Linked DNA regions of Homo sapiens: regions 2, 3 and 4 are each linked to region 1. The links come from fine-mapping of genetic effects on gene expression. A gene starts in region 1. Each other region holds a variant in brackets. All regions are shown on one strand. Distances are between the middles of the regions.

Region 1 (6,365 bases):
CCTGTAATCCCAGCACTTTGGGAGGCCGAGGTGGGCAGATCACAAGGTCAAGAGATTGAGACCATCCTGGCCAACATGGTGAAACCCCGTCTCTACTAAAAATACAAAAATTAGCTGGGCATGGCGGTGCGCGCGCCTGTAGTCCCATCTACTCAGGAGGCTGAGGCAGGAGAATCATTTGAACCTGGGAAAAGGAGGTTGCAGCGAGCCAAGATGGTGCCACTGCTCTCCAGCCTGGCGACAAAGAGAGACTCTGTCTCAAAAAAAAAAAAAAAAAAAAAAAAAAGAGAAGAACTAAGGACCGCTCTTGTTATCTTGGTGGGGGAAAAACATAATCTGCAAAAAGTCTGAACTGGGCAGAGTGGCTCACACCTATAATCCCAACAGTTTGGGAGGCTGAAGTGGGAGAATCGCTTGAGCTCAGGAGTTGAGAGACCAGCCTAGGCAACACAGCAAGACTGTGTGTTTTTTTTTTTAAGGTATTAAAAGTCTGATTCAAATGAATATGGAAAACTCAGGAAAACAATGATTTTGTAACTAAATTAACATCTAGAACTTTTCTCTTTTATCCATAATTATTGGACTTATTTAAAACTAAAAAATTTTTTCGCCATGCACGGTGGCTCACGCCTGTAATCCCAACTTTGGGAGGCTAAGGCGGGCGGATCACAAGGTCAGGCATTCGAGACCAACCTGGCCAACATGGTGAAACCCCGTCTCTACTAAAATTACAAAAATTAGCCAGGTGAGGTGACCCACGCCTGTAGTCCCAGCTACTCAGGAGGCTGAGGCAGGAGAATCACTTTAACCTGGGAGGCAGAGGTTGCAGTGAGCCGAGATCGCGCCACTGCACTCCAGCCTGGGTGACAGAGAGAGACTCTGTCTCAAGAAAAAAAAAAAAAAAAAAGGAAAATTCATCTATTTAAGATAATCAGCAGCTATATTTAAAGGACCACAGTTAACCACAACAGAGACAAGAAACCTGCCATTAAAAAGTATAATTGGTGAAGCTGTATAATGGGTACAAGGTCATTACATTATTCTGCTTTTGTGTATGGTTTATAATTTCCATGTTATAAAACCATAATACATCAAAAAATAGATTTTCATGTAAACTTATGCCAAGTGAAAAATAAATGGCATGTATCCGCCTCTTCTGTTGCCTCATATCAAAGTCAGGGTCAAACCAGGGAACTTTCCCTTTCTAACCCATTCAATACATGCTCTTACCAGGTCCTTATGTGTACCCACTGGAAGATGCAAATGGGAAGAGCCAGCTTACTTACATAGAATGGTGCTGAAAATAACCCAGGCAAGATATTAGTACGTTTTCAATAGAAATTTTGGAACATTCTTGAGAATTGACCTCAAGACTGAAAAACTTAACTGCATGGAAGATTATTTCTTTGAGAGAATTTTTCTTGTGTTTTTAAGAGTCAGGGTCTTGTTCTGTTGCCCAGGATAGAGTGCAGCGGCCCAATCATGGCTCACTGCAGCCTTGAATTCCTGGGCTCAGGGAGTACCTCTTGCCTCACTCTCCAGAGTAGATGGGACTACAGGCACAAGCCACCATATCTCGTTGTTGTTTTTTTTTACATTTTTGTAGACTGGGTCTTGGTATGTTGCCCTGGCTGGTATTGAACTTCTGGTCTTAAGTAATCTTCCCATCTCAGGCTCCAGAGCAGCTGAGATTACAGTCAAGAGCCACCTTGCCCAGCTCTAGATAAATTTCTGTATAATGTTCCCTGGTACAATAAAAACAAATCCAACTGAGGGTATGTGCATGGGTCTATTATCAGTTTTCTAACTGGTTTGTCTAACGTCTTTACTCTTTTATTCCCTCTAGAAAGACTAAAGGTAACCAATACAATTTATTATACCAAAATGCCTGTGGACTTCTCATGACTGGAGTCAACCTACTTATAAAAGGAAGTAAAACTTAATTGGAATGGAGTTGAAACTAAATGTTAAAGTCATCTTTTCTACTTTGCTTTTGCACTGTCACGATGGAGGGGACTACACTTCTCCAGCTGCAGGTTGAGAATGTAAAGGAACCGGTATCAACACTGTCCTCATGAATACCGTAGCAAATGTACTTTTGATTTTTAAGTGTGGTTAGTCTGACACCCACCTTTGGCTTCCTGGGGAGTAAATTCCACAGGTTGATTCACCATTCTATTACACCTGCTTTTTATTTGCTCTTAAATCAAAGCCTTTAAAATTAAGCCTGGAGCTTCAAATTAACATAAAGAGGAATGGAGTGTAGTCTTTAAAGTTTCTGCAGGAGAAAAATTTTAGACCGGATAGACGCGTGTTCAAGCCTAGGACTGGTACAGCTTGAAACCACTGCCAGTTTGCTGAAAATGATTCCTCAGATGATCAAGGAAAATCCCAAAGCTCCTGATGACACCTCACCTGGTTGAACTCCTCGTCAGCATATATATCAATCAAGTCCACTCCTTCTGACATGGCTCCGGAAGGAAGATCGCGAGTCCGGAGGATGGACAAAGTAAGGAAGATGCCACTGCGGGATTCGGAAAAATGCAAGAATTAGAAGGCACGAGGGTCCTGGGCTGGGAAGAGGGTAATGATTGCTAACCTCCCATCTCCAGAGACGCAGCATCCTGGCGGCCCCAGCTCGGCCCCACCCGCTCCGCCCCGCCCCCGGCCTCGCGCCGCCCACCGCTCTCCCAGGCCGCCGGGGGTCGCTGCCCATCACCCTCGGGCCCGACCCGGGTAGCGCCGCGTCTGCGCCGCAGCTGCCTATGGCGCGACGGAAAAGTCCCACCCTCGGGTCCTAGTGGCCCTAGGACGGCGTTGCGAAGAATGACCGCGGCGAAGCCCGCAGCCCCTATCCGCTGCACCTGCCTAGCCCCCAAGGCGGCTCCGGCCAGAGCCCCCAGGTGTCAAGCAGCTCCAGCCGCCTCTGCCCCCAACCCAGGCCTACTCTTCGCCCCCAGCTAGGCCCGCCCCGCTCCCTCCCGACAAACCCGGCCCGGCGCGCTCTGCCTCCTCCCTCAAAAGGCCCGCGACTCCCTCCGCCCGCAGACTCCGGCCGTCCCATCTCAACCGACCCCCTTCCCGCCTCAGTGCCGGCCCGGACCCCTCTTCCGGCCCAACCTGCCCCCGACCGCGCGCCCCCGTTACCGGGAATATGGCGGCGGCGGCGGCGAGTCCGGACTAGGCCCGAAGCGCGCGAACCGCTCTCCGCCCCAGGTCCCGCCCCCCCCGCCGCCGGCGTCACACGCACCGCCACTTCCGGCATGCGCAGGGACGCACCTTCCGGCTCAGCTCCTCCGTGGCTGCCGTGGTCGGCTGGCCGGGCGGCTAGGAGTTCCCGGAAGTGCCCGCGCAGCCGGTTTCCGGTGCAGGTGGGGAAAATGGCGGTGTCTACAGTGTTCTCGACTTCGTCGCTGGTGAGGAGAGAGAACGTTCTAGCGTCCGGGGCGGGCGGCAGCGGGGATTACCCTTTGTCTTCCTCTGTGGTCTCTATCTTGGGGAGAGTTCGTCTGCCCGATAGCGCAGGGCAAGGGCAGGCCCAGGGAGAGGCCGATCCTGCAACTCAGGAAATAAAGGTCGCTTCCATTCTTTGGTGAGCCTACTGTGTGCCGGTCTGGAAATATCTGCTTAAACGATCAGTCATCGTCCAAGACCCAATTCGCCTCTCACCTACGTCCCAGGCGGGATTAGCCCAACTTCCCTGGGCTCCCCTTCTCCCCGTTCTTTAGTCTTTAATGCTTTTCGTGGTTTCACATAGTATCTTCAGCTTTTTGTTTGTTTATAATTGACATATAATTGTACGTGTTTATGGGGGTACAGTATAATGTTTTAATACATGTGTACATCGAATAATCAAATCAGCGTAGTTAGCATGTCCATCACCTCAAATCTTTATCATTTATTTACGGTAATAACTTTTCAAGATCTTTTTCTAGCATCTTGACATATACAGTACAGTGTTATTAGCTGTAGTCACTCTAATATGTAATAGAACACTGGAACTTATTATTCTTTTTTCCTAGCCTGCTGTTATAAAGTAACTAACTTTGCCTCTATCTTCCCCTCCTACCCCCATCCCTATCTTTATTCTTTTTTTTTTTTCCTGCAGACCCAGGGACTCGATCTTTATTCTTTTTTGATGTAGGCGTTTACACTATAAACTTCCTTCTTAGTACAGCTTTTGTCGCATCTCATAATTTTGTATATGTTGGGTTTTAGTTTGTCTCAGGATATTTCCTTTTTGTTTGTTTTTTGTTGTTTTCCTTTTTTTTTTTTGAGACGGAGTTTTGCTCTTGTCGCCCAGGCTGGAGTGCAATGGCACGAACTTGGCTCACTGCAACCTCCACCTACCGGGTTCAAGCGATTCTTCCGCCTCAGCCTCCCAGGTAGCTGGGATTACAGGCATCGCCATCATGCCTGGCTAATTTTTGTATTTTTGTAGAGATGGGGTTTCACCTTGTTGGCCAGGCAGGTCTCGAACTCCAGACTTAAGGTGATCCGTCCTTCTCGGCCTCCCAAAGTGCTGAGATTACAGGCGTGAGCCACCGCGCCCGGCCTGTTGTTTCCCTTCTTTTTTCTTTTTTTCGTAGAGACAGGTTCTCACTATGTTGCCCAGGCTGGTCTCAAACTCCTGGCCTCAAGTGATCCTCCTGCCTCAGCTTTCCAAAAAGTGCTGGGATTACTGGTGTGATCCACCATTCCCGGCGTGTCTCAAGATATTTTCTAATTTTCCTTTTGATGTCTTCTTTGACTCATTGATTGTTCAAGAGTGTGTTGTTTAATTTCCACATATTTGTGAATTTTCCACCTTTTCTTTTGCCATTGATTTCCAGATTTTAATAAAATGTCTCTTGTGCGGCATATAGTTGAATCTTTTTTTTAATTCATTATATTCAGCCACTTCATGTCTTTTGGTTGGGGAGGTTATGTTATGTTATGTTATTTTCTTGAGACAGAGTCTCGCTCTGTCGCCCAGGTTGGAGTGCAGTGGCATGATCTCGACTCACTGCAAGCTCCACCTCCTGGGTTCACGCCAATCTCCTGGTTTAGGAGTAGCTGGGACTACAGGCGCCCCCCACCACGCCTGGCTAATTTTTTGTATTTTTAGTAGAGACGAGATTTCACCGTGTTAGCCAGGATGGTCTCGATCTCCTGACCTCGTGATCTGCCCGCCTCAGCCTCCCAAAGTGCTGGGATTACAGGCGTGAGCCACCGCGCCAGGCCTGGAGTTTAATCCATTTATACCTAAAGTAAATAGTGGCCGAGGTGGGTGGATCGTGTGAGTCCTGGAGTTCGAGACCAGCCTGGGCAACATGGCAAAACCCCTTTTCTACTAAAAAAAATTAGTCAGGTGTGGTAGTACACACCTGTAGTCCCAGCTACTTGAGAGGCTGAGGCGGGAGTGCGTCTGAGAAGTCAAGGCTGCGGTGAGCCTTGATTTTGCAACAGCACTCCAGCCTGGGCATTGGAAGTGAGACCTTGTCTCAAAAAATAAATAAAATAGGGAAGTACAATCATCCCTTTGTATCCATGGGATGACTGTTGTAGGATCCGCTGTGGATATCAAACTCTGCAGAAGCTCAGTCTCTTATATAAAATGGCATAGTATTTGCATATAATCTACACACATACTTCCATATCCTTTAAATTATTTCTAGATTACTTATAATACCGAAAACAATGTCAAGGCTATGTATATGCTTGTTATACTATATCTTAGTTGTTTTTTAATTGTTGTATTATTTATTTCTTTTGAATATTTTTGATCCACAGTTGGTTGAGTGTGCAGTTGGTTGAATTTACAGGTGTGGAACCCACAGATACGGAGGGCCAACTGTGCTTGCTGTTGCCGTTTTGTAAACTGTTCTCTGTCTTACAACCTTTTTGCTCCTCTTTTCCACTCTTGTCATCCTTTATATTTCGTTGACTTTTTTTTTTTTGTAGTGACATACTTTGAGAAACGAATTTCTCATTTCCTTGTGTGTCTTACACAGGTATTTCTTTGTGGTTACCATGTGGCTTATATAAAACATAACAATCTGTTTTGATAACTTAATTTCCATTGCATACAAAAACTCTGCTCTTTTATGACCCCCTTGTATGTTGTGGATGTCACAAATTACATCTTTTTATATTGTCTCCATTAACAAATTTTTATAGTTGTTTTTATACCTTTGTCTTTAATTTCTATACCAAAATTAAAAGTGACTTACATACCACAGTTACAGTATTATAGTATTCTGTACTTGTCTCTCTCTATATATTTTTTTAATTTAATTTTTTTTTTTTTTTGAGACGGAGTCTCGCTCTGTTGCCAGGCTGGAGTGCAGTGGCGCGATCTTGGCTCACTGCAACCTCCATCTCCT
Region 2 (6,365 bases), 71 kb after region 1:
TTAGAGTGAGTGTATGAGTGTGTATGAGTGTGAATATGAGTGTGTGTGAGTGTATATATGTGTGAGTGTATGTGTGTGGGTGTGAGTGTATGAGTGTGAGAGTGTGATTCAGGTTGGAGAGCCTGTGTGTGTGTGTCTTTAGAGTCCCCAGTTAAAGGGCCAGGGCAGGAAGGTGTGTGTGTCGCTCACCTGGCCTAAGCTTGGGTGAGATGCTGAAGGCGCTGTGCTCAGAAAAGGCTATATGAGCCCCTGGGCCAAGCAGCCTCCTATGGAGCCTGATGACAAGGTTGTGGTCCCTACGGTCAGACGGCCTTGGCGCAGAGCCATGCTCTCCTGGTGGGCTCTGGCACTGGGGGCGGTGGGCTGGCATTGAAGAACATGGGCAAAGCTTCTCCTGAGCACAGAACAGCATTTGACAGTGTGGGGCTTCTGGGAGGACAGTGCAAGCAGGGGCAGAGGGAGAATGATCACGCGACTCCCTGAGTGGTCACAGGCTGATGAGGTCTGACGATGGAGGCTGTCAGTCAGAGTTCATCACAAGCAACAAAAACCACAGCTGGCTAATTTAAGCAGAAAAGGAATTTCTTAAAAGGACTTGGTCACTCACAGAATCTTCAGGTGGACCTGAGAATAAAACTTAGAGCCCGGCCGGTCGTGGTGGCTCACGCCTGTACTCCCAGCACTTTGGAAGGCCGAGGCCGGCGGATCACCTGAGATCAGGACTCCGAGCCAGCCTGACCAACATGGAGAAACCCCGTCTCTACTAAAAATACAAAAATTAGCCGGGTCCGTGGTAGCAGGCGCCTGTAATCCCAGCTACTCAGGAGGCTGAGGCAGGAGAATCGCTTGAACCCAGGAGGTGGAGGTTGAGGTGAGCCGAGATGGCGCCATTGCACTCCAGCCTGGGCAACAAGAGCAAAACTCCATCTCAAAAAAGAAAAAGAAAAAAAAAAACCAAAAAACTTAGAGCCCACCCAGCCAGGAAGCACAAAGAAAATCGCCCCATGGCCCTGGGACCACAAAGACCCCAGGCCTCCCCACCGCTGCTCCTGGGACACAGCCCCTGCTGCCGCTCCTCACACCGCCCTCAGGAGGGATCTGAGTGATCCCTTCTGCTCAGCAGTTCTCATTTCCTATTCAGAATCTGACGTGGGTGTACTTGGGGGCGACTTCCGGGTCACAGGCTTCCACCTCGCTTGCAAGGGATGCCGGGAAAGTGAGCTCCCAGCGTTTTCAGCTGCCTTGGGAGGAGAGTGGGCTCTGTTTTGTAAGGCAGGTGGATTCTCCAACATAGCCAGGGGCTACAGATGCTGGGAGGCCCAAAGAAATCAAATGTCCTTCCCACGTGAGTTACCATCACTAAGAAGGGCATTTGTGGGGTACCTTCTGTAAGCGGGGTGCTCTCGGTGCTTTTACACACCTAGGGAGTTTGCTGTTGGCCTGCGAAGACCCTTTATGGGACATGGATCAAAAGTGCTGTTCCTCGAGATACTTACCTCCAGTATAGGATCCTGGTGTCAAAAGGAATCAGATACGGCTCCATTGTACATGGCATGACTTGTATAGCCAGACAGAGCAGGTATATGTGAGTATGGACTTCATAAGCAATACTCAAGACCTCAAAAGTGTATCTTGGGGCCGGGCGTGGTGGCTCACACCTGTAATCCCAGCACTTCAGATGGCAGAGGCGGGTGGATCACCTAAGGTCAGGAGTTTGAGACCAACCTGGCCAACATGGCAAAACCCTGTCTCTACTAAAAATACAAAAATTAGCCGGACATGGTGGCACACACCTGTAATCCTAGCTACTTGGGAGGCCCAGGCAGGAGAATACTTGAAGCCGGGAGGTGGAGGTTGCAGTGAGCCGAGATTGCGCCATTGCTCTCTAGCCTGGGTGACCAAAAAAAAAAAAAAAAAAAAAAGTGTATCTTGGTCTATCAGTAACAACTGGATTTAGCAAAGATGTGGACTTCCCCAGCCTAATCTCTCGGCTACACCCATGTCTGTCTTGCAGGTGTGGAAACTTCTGGATGCCTGCTCTTGTGAGTTCACCTCTATGTCTACTCTACTGAGGCCTCTCCATACAGGTAGAGTGACTTGTGGGAGGCCTGTTACATCCTCAGGCCACACCTGGTAAGGGAAGCGCAGGTGGGTCCCACCTGCCCTGGTGCCCCCCTCAGGATACCTGGGGGTATATACTTTTTCTCATGCCACCCCCAGGCTCTGCCCAGATGGGGCTGACGACTGGTTTTTGGGCTGGCATCCGTGTTTCCGGGCGCTGCTTGCCCGTTCTCTCCCACCTGCCGGTTGAACCTTAATCTCCTTTTGGGTGCTATCTTCTGCGATGACGCATCCTTCCCCTCTCCAGGGCTTATGGCATCAGCTCTCTGCTCTCGAAGTTCAAAGCCAAGCTTTTTTGGACCTACACAAAAGATTTCTCTTTCAAAACTGGTTGTTGTAAGGGTATAGTCTCAGCTCTGGGTTTCAAAGCCTCTTTTGCAACTCAAAGCCAAGGATTTGACTCTTTGTTCTGAGTTTCCCTGGAGAGCAGGGAATATAGGAAACCAACTTAGCATATGAATGCAAGTCAATGGATATAAGGAAATTGTCTACAGTGGAATAAGTTAGTATCTCAAAATGACAGCATTCAGCTCCCATACACTGTCACTGACGCTTTGTGATAATCCTTTGAGAAAGGGTGATTTTGCCCGATCCAGAGCTGAGACTAGGGTGAGGGGGGGCAAGGCACTTGCTCTAGACACCATATTTAAAGAAGTGCCAAAAAAACCCACCTCCATAATTAAGTAATAGTTTGATGCAATCATTGTAAAAGTAAAAATTATTGCCAAAAATCCATGATGAAAAAAAATCAAAATTTTAAACGAAGATGAGATTCGTGTTACTGATTTTTCCTTTGCTCGAAGGTTCCAATAATGGCTCCACACAGCACTGGCACTTGGCACTGATCTGTTTTTTTTTTCCTTTTTTTTTGAGACAGAGTCTCACTCTGTCACCCAGGCTGGAGTGCAATGGCACAATCTCAGCTCACTGCAACCTCCACCTCCTGGGTTCAAGCGATTCTCCTGCCTCAGCCTCCCGAGTAGCTGGGATTACAGGTGCACACCACCAAGGCTGACTAATTTTTGTATTTTTAGTAGAGACGGGGTTTCACCATGTTGGCCAGGCTGGTTTCGAACTCCTGACCTTATGATCCACCCGCCTTGGCCTCCCAAAGTGCTGGGATTACAGGCGTGAGCCACCGCGCCTGGCCCTCTGATCTGGTCTTCATGGAGCTCACATCCTAGTCCATCGGAAACAGACTTCAAGCAAATAATTCACAGTTATTATTTATTTAGTGTGATTGGAATAATTACTTTGAAGGAGAAATGTGGGAGCTCAAGAATCTATAACAGGGGCTTGACGTGCTCTGAAAGATCCTGGAAGGGAAGTGTGTTAGTCTGTTCTTGCGTTGCTATAAAGAAATACCTGAGGCTGGGTGGTTTATAAAGAAAAGACAAGATGGGCATATTGGCTCACTCCTGTAATCCCAGCACTCTGGAAGGCCGAGAAGGGTGGATCACCTGAGGTCAGGAGTTTGAGACCAGCCTGGTCAACATGGTGAAACCCCATCTCTACTAAAAATGCAAAAATTAGCTGGGCATGGTGGCACACACCTGCAGTCCCAGCTACTCAGGCGGCTGAGGCAGGAGAATTGCTTGAACCTAGGAGGC[G/A]GAGGTTGCAGTGAGCCTAGACTGCTCCATTGTACTCTAGCCTGGGCAACAGGAGAGAAACTTTCTCAAAAAAAAAAAAAAAAAAGAAAAAAGAAAAAGAAAAGAAAAGCTGTTTATTTTGACTCATGGTTCTATAGGCTGCACTGGAAGCATGGTGCCATATCTGCATCTGGTGAGGGCTTCAGGGAGTTTACAGTCATGGCAGAAGGTAAAAGGGAGTAGCGTTATCACTTGGTGAGAGAGGGAGCAAGAGATAGGAGGGAAGGTCCCAGACTCCTTAACAACCAGATCTTGAGTGAACTGAGCAAGAATTCACTCATCACCAAGGGGACAGTGCTAAGCCATTCATGAGGGATCTGCCTCCATGACCCCAATACCTCCACTAGGCTCCATGACCCACATTGGCCGTTACATTTCTTTTTCTTTTTTTTTGAGATGGAGTTTTGCTCTTGTTGCCCAGGCTGGATGGAGTGCAATGGGGTGATCTTGGCTCACTGCAACCTCCACCTCCCGGGTTCAAGCAATTCTCCTGCCTCAGCCTCCCGAGTAGCTGGGATTACAAGTGGGCACCATCACGCCTGGCTAATTTTTGTGTTTTTAGTAGAGACGGGGTTTCACCATGTTGGCCAGGCTGGTCTCGAACTCCTGACTTCAGGTGATCCGCCTGCCTTGGCATCCCATAGTGCTGGAATTACAGACGTGAACCACCGCGCCCAGCCAGGGATTACATTTCAACATGAGATTTGAAGGGGACAAACATCCAAACCATATCAGGAGGTTTCAGCTGAGACCTTAAGGATGAGTAGTGTGAACCAAGCAGAGTGGGAAGAAGAGAATTCCAAGCAGAGGGACTGGCATGTCCAAAGGTCCTGGGGTGAAAAGAAGCTCTTCAGGTTAGCTCATCTCCAAGTGGTGACTCTGGGATCCAGGATCCTTTCCATCTTTAACATCACAGTAGATAAATGGAGCATGGAGGATTGTGCATTCATGTGGTATGTTTCACTTCTGCCCACATCCATTAGCCCAGCAGTCATCCCAGGGTCTTACCCTCTCAGCTAGGAAAAGTAGTTTTACTGAGGGCTCAGGAAGAAGAGGGGGAAAAAACAGAAGTTGGTCACTCTCAGTAGCCTCTGCCCCAGGGGGACCAGGCCAGACAAGTCCTTGGTAGTCTTGGTTGGGACCTGGATCTGTATTCTTGGAGCAGATGATCTGATTTGCATTTGGCCACAGATCCAAGAAGGTATTAACATAAAGAGCGACTGCCAGCCATGACCCCAGCATTCCTCCCAGGAGGAAGGAGTCATCAAGTCCACTTTGTAGCTTGATGGCCTAACAGAACCCACTGGGGTGGTCAGAGTTCCATCCACAACATTCTGGAATGTGGCCTTGGGAACCAGTCAGCTTCTCCCCCTCCTCACACTCCTGTGGCCTCTGTTGCTCCAGCTCTGGTGTCTCTGAGGGGGACCTGGGAGGACTCTCAGCTTTCAACAGATCAGGCAGGTAACTCACAGAGCTAGGGTTCCAGGTAAACATGATCCCCAGGCCACGCCTGGGCTCTGGTTTCTTAGGCAGGATGGGAGGAGTAGGTTGGCAGTGGCTGAGCCAGCCTGGTGAGTTTGGCTATCACTGATGGGCTCTAGTCTAACGGTGGGCCAGAGACTGCCTGGAATTTGGTATCATATAAGCCCTGAGCCCAGATCACAGGCCTAGGATGACCCAGGACCTGGGGACCTCTTTGTTCTGTCTTGTGGGACCTGATTTGGGGTTCCTAGGCTTGCCCTGTGGATTTCAGGATACCCCCTAGTTAGGCAAACATATGAGCCCTGGGGCCTGGGATGGGAAAGGGGAAGTGGTGTGGCTCATAGCCACTCTTGTCCTCTCTGACAACATCAAAACCTCCAAGCAGGGCACCCCTAGAAATATTTTTGCTGTTTGCAGGATGGAGGTGAGCGTTTGAGCACCCAGGGTGGTTTCTCTAATTTCTCCTAGACCACAGAGTCAATGAGACATCGTCGACAAAGCCCGGGCTTTGCAATAAGATGGACTGGGTTTGAATCCTGGCTCCGCCCCTTACCGGCTGTGTGACCTTGTAGCTTGGCAGTGGCTGTTTAACCACACTGAAACTCAAACTACTTAACCTCTCTGAATCTAATCTGTTTCTTCATCTGTAGAGCCAGAGGGTGGTGGAGAGTATAGTACCTGCTCGGCAGAGCTGTTGTGAAGAATAAATTTGACAACCTGTATGTGCTGAGTAAACGACAGCTAGCATTATCCTGTGGGAGAGAACCAAGAGGAGAGAGGTTAAAGTTGCACAAAACCCTTTCCCCAACACACACACATACACATGCATGCACGCATGCACGCACACACGTACACGCATGCACACACGTGTGCGTGCACACACACACACATACCCCCCCATATCCTGCAGCCATAGCCAAAGGGATCCTGTTAAAACATGTGTCCTCTGTGCAAAATTCCCGGATGACCTGTCACCTAGAGTCAAAGCCAAAGTCCTCATGAAGGACAGGGGCCCTCCTCGGCCTGCCCAGTCCTTACTTTCTGTCTCTGATCTCCTGGACCACCATGCTTCCCCTTGCTCCCTGGGCTGGGCCCCTTGCTGCTCCCAAAGTC
Region 3 (4,000 bases), 120 kb before region 1:
CCCACTTCCCACATTCATCCTGGCATTCCTCCAGTCCTGCACCCCTTTTACTTCTCACCATTTCACGTACTATGTACTTTATTTGCTCATAAACTCCAAAAGGGCAGCTCATTGTCCATTTTGTTTGCTGCTATCTCCCTACTCCAAAACATCAAGTTGTCCATTTTCGATATACAAAATTTTTGTCAACTATACCTCAATAAAGATGGAAAAAAACTTTTTAGCAAGGGAGGAGGTAGGGTCATGGCATAAGCAGTGGAATATTTCAAAGGACTAGCTTTCAGGAATGCACTCAGGATATTCTGATTTGGCTCATTTTCTTTTGGCATGGAACATCCTACGTGCAGGGACCATAGGTCTCACTCGTTTCTCAAGTCCCACAGCACTCAGGATCTGAAACACATGGGGGTTCACGTAACCTAGTCTAATGCGTGGTTCAACCTCAGTTTCCGAGATTCTCAACTCAGAGCTCTATCCTCCACACCCGCTACTTTGTTCTCCTTCAGATCTGACACACACGTGGCCCCAGACAACCTAAGAGAGACACATTCTGCAGACAATGATGGGCAGCCTAAAGTAAGTACCAAGTGGTCCAGGCCTCACCGTGCTATTGATGCTGGCTAACAGCTTCCCGTTAAATTCCACCATAGAGTACACGGCCCCTTTCACTTCCTTTTCAGCCACAGTCTGTAGTTTTCCTGGGGGTGGAAAAAATATGTTTGAGTCTCTATGAGCCCACACTTTACCTCATCAAAAGAATCCTCTGGTTGCCCCTGTGGTACAAATTCTTGCCCCCCAAAACCACTCATCTAAAAAAACAACACAGACTCAGTATCTACTGGAGTTAATGACCACGTGAAGTATGAGCCCCAAGATAATGTGCAGAGAAATCCAGTTGGTATCTAGGATCTGCCCCCTCGCCCTGAAACTCTAGATCTCTCTCTCAAGATGGAAACCAGATCCCATTTCAGCTATCTGATCTGAGATTTCCGGGCTGATAGTCTTTAGAGCCATCTTGGGTGGGTGTAACGAGAAAAGATATTAAAATATAAACACAGAGTTGAAGCTGGAAAGAGCACCTAAATGCCTGAGCAACCAAGTGGAAAACAAACCTAAGATTCTGAATTTTTATACCTGTTGTCACTAGATTCCCTTACCCATCGTTCACTTCTCCCACCCCTCCCTTTTGTTCTTTTGGCCTTTCAAAGAGTAGCAAAGAAAGAAATGTAAGCTAAATTTTACTGTGTACTGTTCACATGCTCCAAAATTCAATCAAATAAAGAAGAGAATAGCTCTTTACAGCAATGAACCCAACTTCTTCTACTGCTTAACTGAGGCTCTCTGAAACCTCACAATGGCCTGCTGACTTTCTCAGCATTTCACATCCCTCAGAAACTGGAGACTGCGCCCACTTACCATCCGAATACTGAAAGACCACAATGCGACCCTGCTTGGGCTCTGCCTCTTCAGGATACACCATTGCTGTGCCCACAATGAAGTAAGTGTTGGGGTCTTTGCCCAGCTTGCAGGAAACCAGACTGAGGGCATATTCATTCTGCAGAAACTGGTGGGCATGAAGCACTAGAGAGTAGAGAGATGACTACGTGATGACAGGTTACCCATATCTGCACGCACACATAACCCCGTATTTCTGAGGCCTGTGGCTTAGGCAGTGACAAAGCGTGTACCACCTGCTGTCCCTGTCTCATCAGATTATCCATCCCCCACCAGCCTAAGCTAAGGAGAGGATGCCCAGCCCTCCAAACTCACTGCCATCTCACAGAATTCCCACCCCTCCTTTCTGCTCCTCCTAGGACAGTCTGCCACATCTGTCAGGCTTTGCAGGTACCAGAGCCCAGAACAGCCTGGATTAGGGAGGGCGTAGATAAAAATTATCGAAAGAGCTCATGTGCACCTTCAAAGGTGTGTTGGTCAATGATAAGTAGGTTGTGCACCTCCACCTCTTCTCCAAAGGAGGTCTCATGAGGAGCAGTGCTGCTGGAGAACAGCTTGCTGGAGCTTACACTGCTGGACAGAGCCTGCAAACAGAGAGAATGCACATCATCCTTCTCAAACACAGAAGAAGTGCTGAGACATCATTGTGAAGGGACCCGTCAGATCAGGACACAAAGGCTGCAGCTAGCCAAGAACTCTGATGGCTGGCAGCTCAAGGAGCCTGAGGAGAGTGTTTCAGAGGAGGCATGTAGTTGAAACATCAATCCCAAACAGTAAAAATCTAAGGGTCATTAAAGACAAAACAGTGATGCTTCAAGTCAATCAAGCACAGCTAAAAAGGAACTCAGGTGACCTAATGGGGACAGACTCCACTACCCTCAATGGGAAGAGGAGGGGGGCACTTCAAATAAAAACAGAAGCCATGAAGACTTCAACTCTGGACTACGGAGGGAGGTCCTATCGCAGATATGTGGAAACATGAAAGGCAGAGAATACATGGAAGAAAATGACCAGCTGGTATCACCACTGAGCCTAGTAT[G/A]TGTAGCTCCAGACTGTTATCTGCCTCATTCTGCAGATAAGAAAACTGAAGTTTAGGCTTTCCCAAGGTCACACAGCTAGCAATAAACCTGGAAGCCAGGCCAGGCACAGTGGCTCACGCTTGTAATTCCAGCACTTCGGGAGGCCGAGGCAGGCAGATCACAAGGGCAAGAGTTCGAGACCAGGCTGGCCAACACAGTGAAACCCCATCTGTACTAAAAATACAAAAATTAGCTGGGCATGGTGGCACGCGCCTGTAATCCCAACTACTCAGGAGGCTGGGCCAGGAGAATCGCTTGAACCTGGGAGGTAGAGGTTGCAGTGAGCCGAGATCGTGCCACTGCACTCCAGCCTGGACGACAGGGTGAGACTCCGTCTCAATAACAAACATAACATAACATAACATAACATAACATAACATAACATAACATAACATAACATAACATAACACATAACATAACATAACATAACAAACATAACACATAACATAACATAAAACATAACATAAAACATAACATAACATAACATAACATAAACCCAGTAGGCACTTTTGAAAAGCTGGTTTCTGTCTTAAAAAAAAAACAAACAAACAAACCTGGAAGCCCGTTCTGTCGGACTCCAAACCCCATGTTCCTCCTCTATTCGACCACTCTACAAAGGACCCAAACTGATGGTGACAGATGCTGCAAGGCCACCAAGTAGGAACTGTTTTTTAAAAATAAACTTTTATAGAAGCCAGCTATGCTCACCTGTTGCCTACAGCTGCTTTCAGGCTACGATGGCAAAGTTGAACAGTCAGTGGTAACTGAGACCACACTGCCTGCAAAGCCGAAAGCCTTCACTACCTGGCCTGTACAGAAAGCTTGCTGGCCCCTGCTCTAAGGTCATCTTTCTTTGTCCACTGCCCTTACCTGGGTGCTAGCGCTGGGCCTCAAGGCTGTCGTGCCCCCACTCGTGTCTTGGACTTCAATGCGGCTGGAGAGGACCCCGAAACACTGGGACACTTCCTGGTAGCAGATCTTCCTGCAGAACAAGTACAGAACAACAGTGTCACTTAGAAAGTCAGAAGCACCCTACACCAACCCCCACTTCCCACTCTCCCACCCTGGGCCTCACCTTGGAGACTCATAGAGGGGAACTGTGCGAATGTGCAGCTTCTGGATCTCATCGATGGTGCCAATGGTGAGGGTGCTATTGTTGGCCAGCGCCAGGCTGGAAAGAAGGGTCTGGGTTTAGACTGAGGAGACTCAAGGAAGGCAAAGATTCTATGAGGCAACTCCACAGAGGAAGAAAAACAAGGCAGGATTACACCAGCTTTGACTCCATGCTAAACATCACCTGGAGAGACAGACAATTCTGATTCCTGGTCCCATCCACAAGATACTCTTATTTCATTGGTCTGGGTGAGCCTAGGCTGAGATTTTTAACAGCTTTCCATTTAATGATAATGTGCAACCAGTTAAAAAAATCAACGCTCCAGGAATGTGACTTTCAAACTACTGCCTGT
Region 4 (6,365 bases), 43 kb after region 1:
TTATGAAGCTGCCTGTGCTGGATCCAAGACCATTGATATCTGTTGCAAATGGAAGTTGTTAATGAGACTCAACAAGTTAGTGGAAAATGTTTTGAGTGTTTTATGAGATTCTCTTTTTTTTTTTTTTTTTTTTGAGACAGGGTCTCACTCTGTTGCCCAGGCTGGAGTGCAGTGGCGAGATCTTGGTTCACTGTAGCCTCAACCTTCCAGGCTCAGGCGATTCTCCCACCTCAGCCTCCCAAGTAGCTGGAACCACAGGCATGTGCCACCACGCCCAGCTAATTTTTTGTTCACCATGTTGCCCAGGCTGGTCTCAAACATGGACTCAAGCAATCCACCCACTTCGGTCTTCTGAAGTGCTGGGATTACAGGCGTGAGCCACTGTACCTGGCCTTTTTTTTTTTTAATTGGTTAATTTATTTATTGAGGCGGAGTCTCACTCTGTCGCCCAGGCTGGAGTGCAGTGGCACGATCTCGGCTTACTGCAACCTCTGCCCCCCGGGTTCAAGCGATTGTCCTGCCTCAACCTCCCGAGTAGCTGGGATTACAGGCGCCTGCCACCGTGCCTGGCTAATTTTTGTATTTTTAGTAGAGACGGGGTTTCACCATGTTGGCCAGGATGGTCTTGAACTCCTGACCTTGTGATCCACCTGCCTTGGCCTCCCAAAGTGCTGGGATTACAGGCATGAGCCACTGTGCCCGGGCTTTTTTTTTTTGTTTTTTTAATTAACTTTTTTAAATTTTAAATTTGAGACAGGGTCTTGCTATGTTGGCCAGGGTGGTCTCAAACTCCTGGCCTCAAGCAATTCTCCCACCTCAGCCTCCCAAATTGCCGGGATTATAGGCCTGAGCCACTGCACCCAGCCACAGGATTCTCTTAAAACCACAAACTTACCATACTTTCTAGATGTTTCCTTTCCCTCCTATGCATGATATAGTTAGCCACTATCTAATTGAAAGGTGTACTAGTCACGTTAGGCTAGACTATGATAATAAATAAACCCCCAAATCTCAGCGACTTAACAACGCAACCCTTATTTCTCATTTGTGCCAAGTCCAATGTGAACTGGGCAGCTGTTCAGGACAGCTCCTTTCTGTGGCAGCCCAGGGATCCACGCTCTGCCATCTCAACATGTGGTCTCCACGGTTGCTACTAAAGGGAATGAGAAAGTGCGGATAACTCACATTCACTTGCAACCTGGAAGCAACACGTGACACTTCTCCGAGCCCTTGGGCCGGAGCTAGTCACATGTTCCTGTGGAACTGCAAGGAGCCTGGGAGGTGTGGTTCTCCCTGGTACCCAGGAAGGAGAAGAGAACCAGATCTGGCTGAGCCTGAAGTCTCTACCACAGTCTGTTCTGCTGGTCTCCATGTACCGCATTGGATTTGCTCTTCTTCCTACACACAACACACAACATGAAACTGCTTTCCAAGAGAGAAAACCCAGAGTGATGTGCAGCTCCTGCCTCCAGCCAGGATCTCATGGGCTGCCCTAGGGTCTCTTTATGAGGTCTAGAGGTGGCCTTTTTTGGTCCAGAGATGTAGGAATTTTAAAAAGTTACCTGTTGGGGGCCGGGTGCGGTGGCTCACGCCTGTGATCCCAGCACTTTAGGAAGCCAAGGGGGTGGATCACCTAAGGTCAGGAGTTCGAGACCAGCCTGGCCAACACAGTGAAACCCTGTCTCTACTAAATATACAAAAAAAAAAATTAGCCAGGTGTGGTGGCACGTGCCTGTAATCCCAGCTACTCAGGAGGCTGAGGCAGGAGAATCGCTTGAACGCAGGAAGCAGATGTTGCAGTGAGCCAAAATTGTGCCACTGCACTCCAGCCTGGGCGACAGAGCGAGACTCCGTCTCAAAAAAAAAATAAATAAAAAATAAAAATAAATTTTAAAAGTTACCTGCTGGGCACAGTGGCTCACACCTGTAATCCTAGCACTTTGGGAGGCCGAGGCAGGTGGATCACTTGAGGACAGGAGTTTGAGACCAGCCTGGCCAACATGGAGAAACCCCATCTCTACTAAAAAATACAAAATTTAGCCAGGTGTGCTGGCGCATACCTGTAATCCCAGCTACTCGCGAGGCTGAGGCACAAGAATCATTTTAGCCTGGGAGGCAGAGGTTGCAGTGAGCTGAGATCATGCCACTGCACTCCAGTCTGGGTGACAGAGCAAGACTCTATCTCAAAAAAAAAAAAAAAAAGGCAGGTTACCTGCTTCTCCCTTCCCACCCCCACGCCATACACAAAGGTGGAGTAGGGGCAGGGACAGGATAACCACAGTAAGGATACCCCGGGAAGTGGGAGCTGAGGCCTTCTGGGCAGACCTTGTGGAGGGGTAGGGAAGTTTCTGGAAGGAACTACCTTCATCGCTGCTCTCAGGGCCGCTTGGCTCCCTCATTTAAAGCTCTTTTTCCCCTACCTTACTTTACTCGATCATATCTGAAGTAGGGATTGTGTGTTCCACCCTCCTTGAGGGTTGTGTGGATTTCTCAGCCCACTTCCTGCCCATGGAAGTTTTAAGTTTCAAATAGTCACAATCTTTTTAAAGACCAGGCCCATGGCCAGGGGCGGTGGCTCATGCCTGTAGTTCCAGCGACTTGAGGCTGAGGCGGGAGAATCTCTTGAGTCCAGGAGGTTGAGGTCACAGTGAGCTATGATTGCGCCACTGCACTCCAGCCTGGGTGACAGAGCAAGACCCTTTCTCTAAAAAAAAAAAAAAAAAAACAAAAACCAAACAAAAAAAGCCCCATTTTTTTTGGGCATTACTGTTTTCTCAAAATTTCAGTAGGCCTCTCATCTGTCTGCTTCCAGTGAGTTTCATATGCCTGAATGTGACAGTTAATTTGTGTCTCAATTTGTCTAGGTGACTGGGTACCTGGATATGTGATCGAGTATTCTTCTGGGTGTTTCTATGAGGATGTTTTTGGATGAAATTGGCATTTAAATTGGTAAACTGAGTAAAGCAGTCTGTCCCCCTAACCGGGGTGGGCTTCATGTAATCAGCTCAAGGTTTGAATACAACAAAAAGACTTACACTCTCGCAAGTGAAAGGCAATTCTTTCTGCCTGGTAGCCTTCAAACTGAGACACAGGCTTTTATCCTGCCTTCAGATTCGCCTGGGAACACTGGCTCTTCCTGAGTCTCAAGCCTGCTGGCCTTGAGACAAGAACTACATCAGCTCTCTCAGTTCTCAAGCCTTTGGACTTACTCTGGAACTAAGCCATCAGCTCTCTTGGGTCGTCAGCTTGCCAACCAACTCATCCTGAAGATCTTGGGACTTGCCAGCCTTCATAGTCACGTGGGCCAATTCCTTTTTTTTTTTTTTTTTTTGAGAT[G/A]GGGTCTTACTCTGTTGCCCAGGCTGGACTGCAATGGCACGATTATGGCTCACTGCAGCCTCAACCTCCAGGGCTTGAGTGATCCTCCCACCTCAGCCTCCCAAGTAGCTGGGACTACAGGCACATGCTACCATGCCCAGCTAATTAAAAAAAATTTTTTTTTTGTAGAGACGGAGTTTCACTGTGTTGCTCAGGCTGGTCTTGAACTCCTGAGCTCAAGCAACCCTCCACTTCAGCTTCCCAAAGTGCTGGGATTACAGGCATCACTGGCCCAGGCAGAGCCAATTCTGTATAATAAATCTGTCTCTCTCTGTCTCTCGTGTATGTGTGTGTGTGCACATTCTGTTTTGCTAGAGAATGCTGACTAATACAGAATCACATCCTAATTTATTTCCTAAGAAGTTCTCAAATCTTCATTTCTTTGCTTATGCCGCAGTAACAAACAAAACCCCAAACCTTAGAGGCTTAAAGCAGCAAGGTTTATCTCTCTATCACATCCCAGTGTGCTGCAGGAAAAGCAGCTCCAGGGCAGCTGACTCCATGCAGTGACTCAGAGATCCAGCCTGCTTCCATCTTTTGGTTCTTCCATCCCAAGTGTGATTTCTACCCACAGAGAATGGAAAACTCACACCCACCTCTAACTACTCAGACTGGGAGTGGCACTGCTCAATTCCACCCACAGAACCAGCCATGTGGCCCTTATCTAACTGCAAGGAAGGCAGGAAAATGCAATGATAATCATAAACATTTCTTGAGTGCTTTCTCTATGCCAGGCTGTGTGCTAAGCATGTAAATATTGTCTTTTCTGTATTCCAAGCCTAAGTCTCTTAAAGTTCTACTGTGACCTCATCATACAGCCAAGGAAACAGGCTCGGAGAAGTTAAGGAAGTTGTCCAAGGGCACATACCTCATAAAGGCAGGGCTGCAGAATTGAACCCAGATCTCTGTGCATTGGAAACCCACCCCCTTGACCCCTGTCCTGGTTCCTTGCTCATCTCTGCCAAGAATATCTTCATTCCATCTGAGGATTGGGAATGGCTTCTTATTTTCTGCCTCATCTCATTTCATCTTCCCCGCGAGTCATGAATTTTTAAACCTTGTGTGAGATCAACAAGTTCACCCAGAGGAGACAGTAAAAGAACAGAACAGGCAGGAACAGAACAGCCATCAGATACACAGGATAGAGTCTTCCAGGAAATGCCCACTGAGGGGAGAAATGAACCACAAGTGAGGCCAGGATTGTGGGAGGCTGTGAGGGAAAGCAATCCGGTCATCAGGGGAATCATTTCCTTTTACGAAAGAGAGAGAGATGGGACTTAGCCATTAGACTTGGGCTATTTCAGTTCCTGGTAATGACACAGCTCAGTGAATAGAACCCCCAAAGCACTTTCGGAAGGGGGGCCCCAGTCCTGGGCAGCTCTCCTGCCTTAATCACTGCAAGTCACAGAGCAGAGAAACTGGAAATGGGCAAAATCGATGACAGGCCTGCCTGCAGACCACGCCCTGGACCCAACCTGCGCCCCCACGGTCATTATGTCACCCATCACTCCTTGGTGCTCACACAGCTGAGCCCATGAAGCAGGGCAGCCCCCACTCCCAGGACTAGACAGAAAGGTGGTTGCACGAATCCAGGGCTCCATGCTCTTCCCCATCGCAGGGAAGACAGGGCCTCACAGACTTGATGTCCTCCCAGTCAGCTCTTCTCTGCCATGATCCCCTTTATGCTGCGTCCCAGCTTCAAACTGCTCCCCTGAAAGGGTCAGTTGGAGCAGCTGAGCTTGGGGCATCTCACCTGGGTGAGCTTTGTTGGTGGGCTCAGAAGAATCTGGGTTGGGAAACAGTACTCTGGGGGCAGAATGAGGGGTTCAGTGAGCCCTTGTGTCCTTTGTGGGCACCTTGGAGTCTGGCTTGGGAGAAACTCCCTGTGCAGGTCCAGCAGGCCTAGAGGCCAGGCTGAGTGTGGGTTGGCATGAGGCCGACTCCCCTCCATGCCCCGCTGTAATAAGGCAGAGGGGAAGGACCTTGGAAGGGGGTAGGCTGGGGTCCTGCTATGTCACAGATGGCAGGTGAGGGGCCCAGGGGGAGGGGACGTGGAACCAGCCATCACTTCAGTATATGAAGACAGAGCTCCAAGTTCTCCAGGCCAAACAACACATCTCAAACTAAAGCAAGCCAAACCTCCTATCCTGGCTCAACCCCCTCTTCACAGGCAACAGGATCAGAGGGAGGCAGTTAATTAAGAAGGGTCACATAGCACTATTTGTGCCAGAGCCAGACCTCAAACTCAAGCCTAGAAAAGGCTCAGAAAGGGGCAGGCATGTAACCTCAGATCACCTGAAGCCAAGAAACATTACTCTAGGCTTGTCCCAGCCTCCAGCATGGGAATTTCAAAAGTAGGAGTATAATTACCCTCTCCCTGCCACCCCCAGCCTCCTGGGCTGGGAGGGCTCAGTGCCTTTAGCTGCATCCCAGGGATCTGTTTCCCATTTCTCAATCATCTTAGCTGATTCGAACAATTTCAGACCTTTCTTCTGTGAATTTTTCACCCAGCAGTGCCCAGCACAAACTGAGGACCATGAGAGGGGTGAACTCTTTAAAAGGATTTTTAGGCCTAGCATGGTGGTTCACACCTGTATTCCCAGCACTTTGGGAGGCCGAGGCAGGAGGATCCCTTGAAGCCAGGAGTTTGAGACCAGCCTGGGCAACAAAGCAAGATCCTGTCTCTATAAACATTTTCTTAAAATCTTTTTATTTTTTTTTCTCTATAGAGGTAATCAGGTTTAAAAAGAGATTTAAAAAGTCATAGGAGGTCAGATTTTGAAAATAGATCTGAGAACCTCTAGCTCAACCTTTGAGGCAATATCAAAGTGGTCACCAGCATGACCTTTGAAGTCAGGATGTCTGGGTTCAAATAATGGCTTTTCCCCTTAGTAGCTGTGTGACCTGTGACAAGTTACGCAGCCTCTCTGTGTCTGAGTTTCTTCATCTATAAAATGGAGGAGCTGATACCACCCACCAGGTAGGAATGC

Which allele goes with the higher level. Alleles are on the strand shown, and positions count from the first base shown. SD is a standard deviation of normalised expression in the study named. Not every link is listed here.
As copies of G replace A in region 2, the expression in thyroid of the gene that starts at base 3,358 in region 1 goes up (moderate effect, 0.64 SD a copy in GTEx).

What was found. PIP is the estimated chance that this variant, and not a neighbour inherited with it, causes the effect.
Region 2: its variant is the best candidate, but not a certain one, in a credible set for the expression of SDHAF2 in thyroid (GTEx, PIP 0.54).
Region 3: its variant is the best candidate, but not a certain one, in a credible set for the expression of SDHAF2 in whole blood (TOPMed, PIP 0.89).
Region 4: its variant is the best candidate, but not a certain one, in a credible set for the expression of SDHAF2 in whole blood (TOPMed, PIP 0.69).

The regions. Positions count from the first base shown.
Region 1 is chr11:61,426,767-61,433,131 of GRCh38, forward strand. It overlaps SDHAF2 (succinate dehydrogenase complex assembly factor 2), which reads left to right and starts at 3,358. Exons shown (of 4, transcript NM_017841.4): 1 at 3,358-3,416. The coding sequence starts at 3,381. It overlaps CPSF7 (cleavage and polyadenylation specific factor 7), which reads right to left and starts at 3,209. Exons shown (of 10, transcript NM_001142565.3): 1 at 3,148-3,209; 2 at 2,416-2,524. The coding sequence starts at 2,469. RefSeq lists enhancers at 2,424-3,072, 3,429-3,488 and silencers at 2,579-3,008, 3,119-3,288, 3,147-3,482.
Region 2 is chr11:61,497,749-61,504,113 of GRCh38, forward strand. LOC105369329 (a long non-coding RNA gene) reads left to right here. Exons shown (of 3, transcript NR_188527.1): 2 at 2,015-2,087. Among named protein-coding and RNA genes, the nearest start is that of MIR4488, 7.7 kb to the right of the region's middle. RefSeq lists a silencer at 1,415-1,615. The variant G/A (reference allele first, on the strand shown) is at 3,732.
Region 3 is chr11:61,308,380-61,312,379 of GRCh38, forward strand. DDB1 (damage specific DNA binding protein 1) reads right to left here. Exons shown (of 27, transcript NM_001923.5): 17 at 3,610-3,705; 18 at 3,405-3,516; 19 at 1,916-2,039; 20 at 1,417-1,581; 21 at 604-698. Among named protein-coding and RNA genes, the nearest start is that of VWCE, 15 kb to the left of the region's middle. The variant G/A (reference allele first, on the strand shown) is at 2,495.
Region 4 is chr11:61,469,881-61,476,245 of GRCh38, forward strand. No RefSeq gene overlaps it. Among named protein-coding and RNA genes, the nearest start is that of SAXO4, 8.1 kb to the right of the region's middle. The variant G/A (reference allele first, on the strand shown) is at 3,337.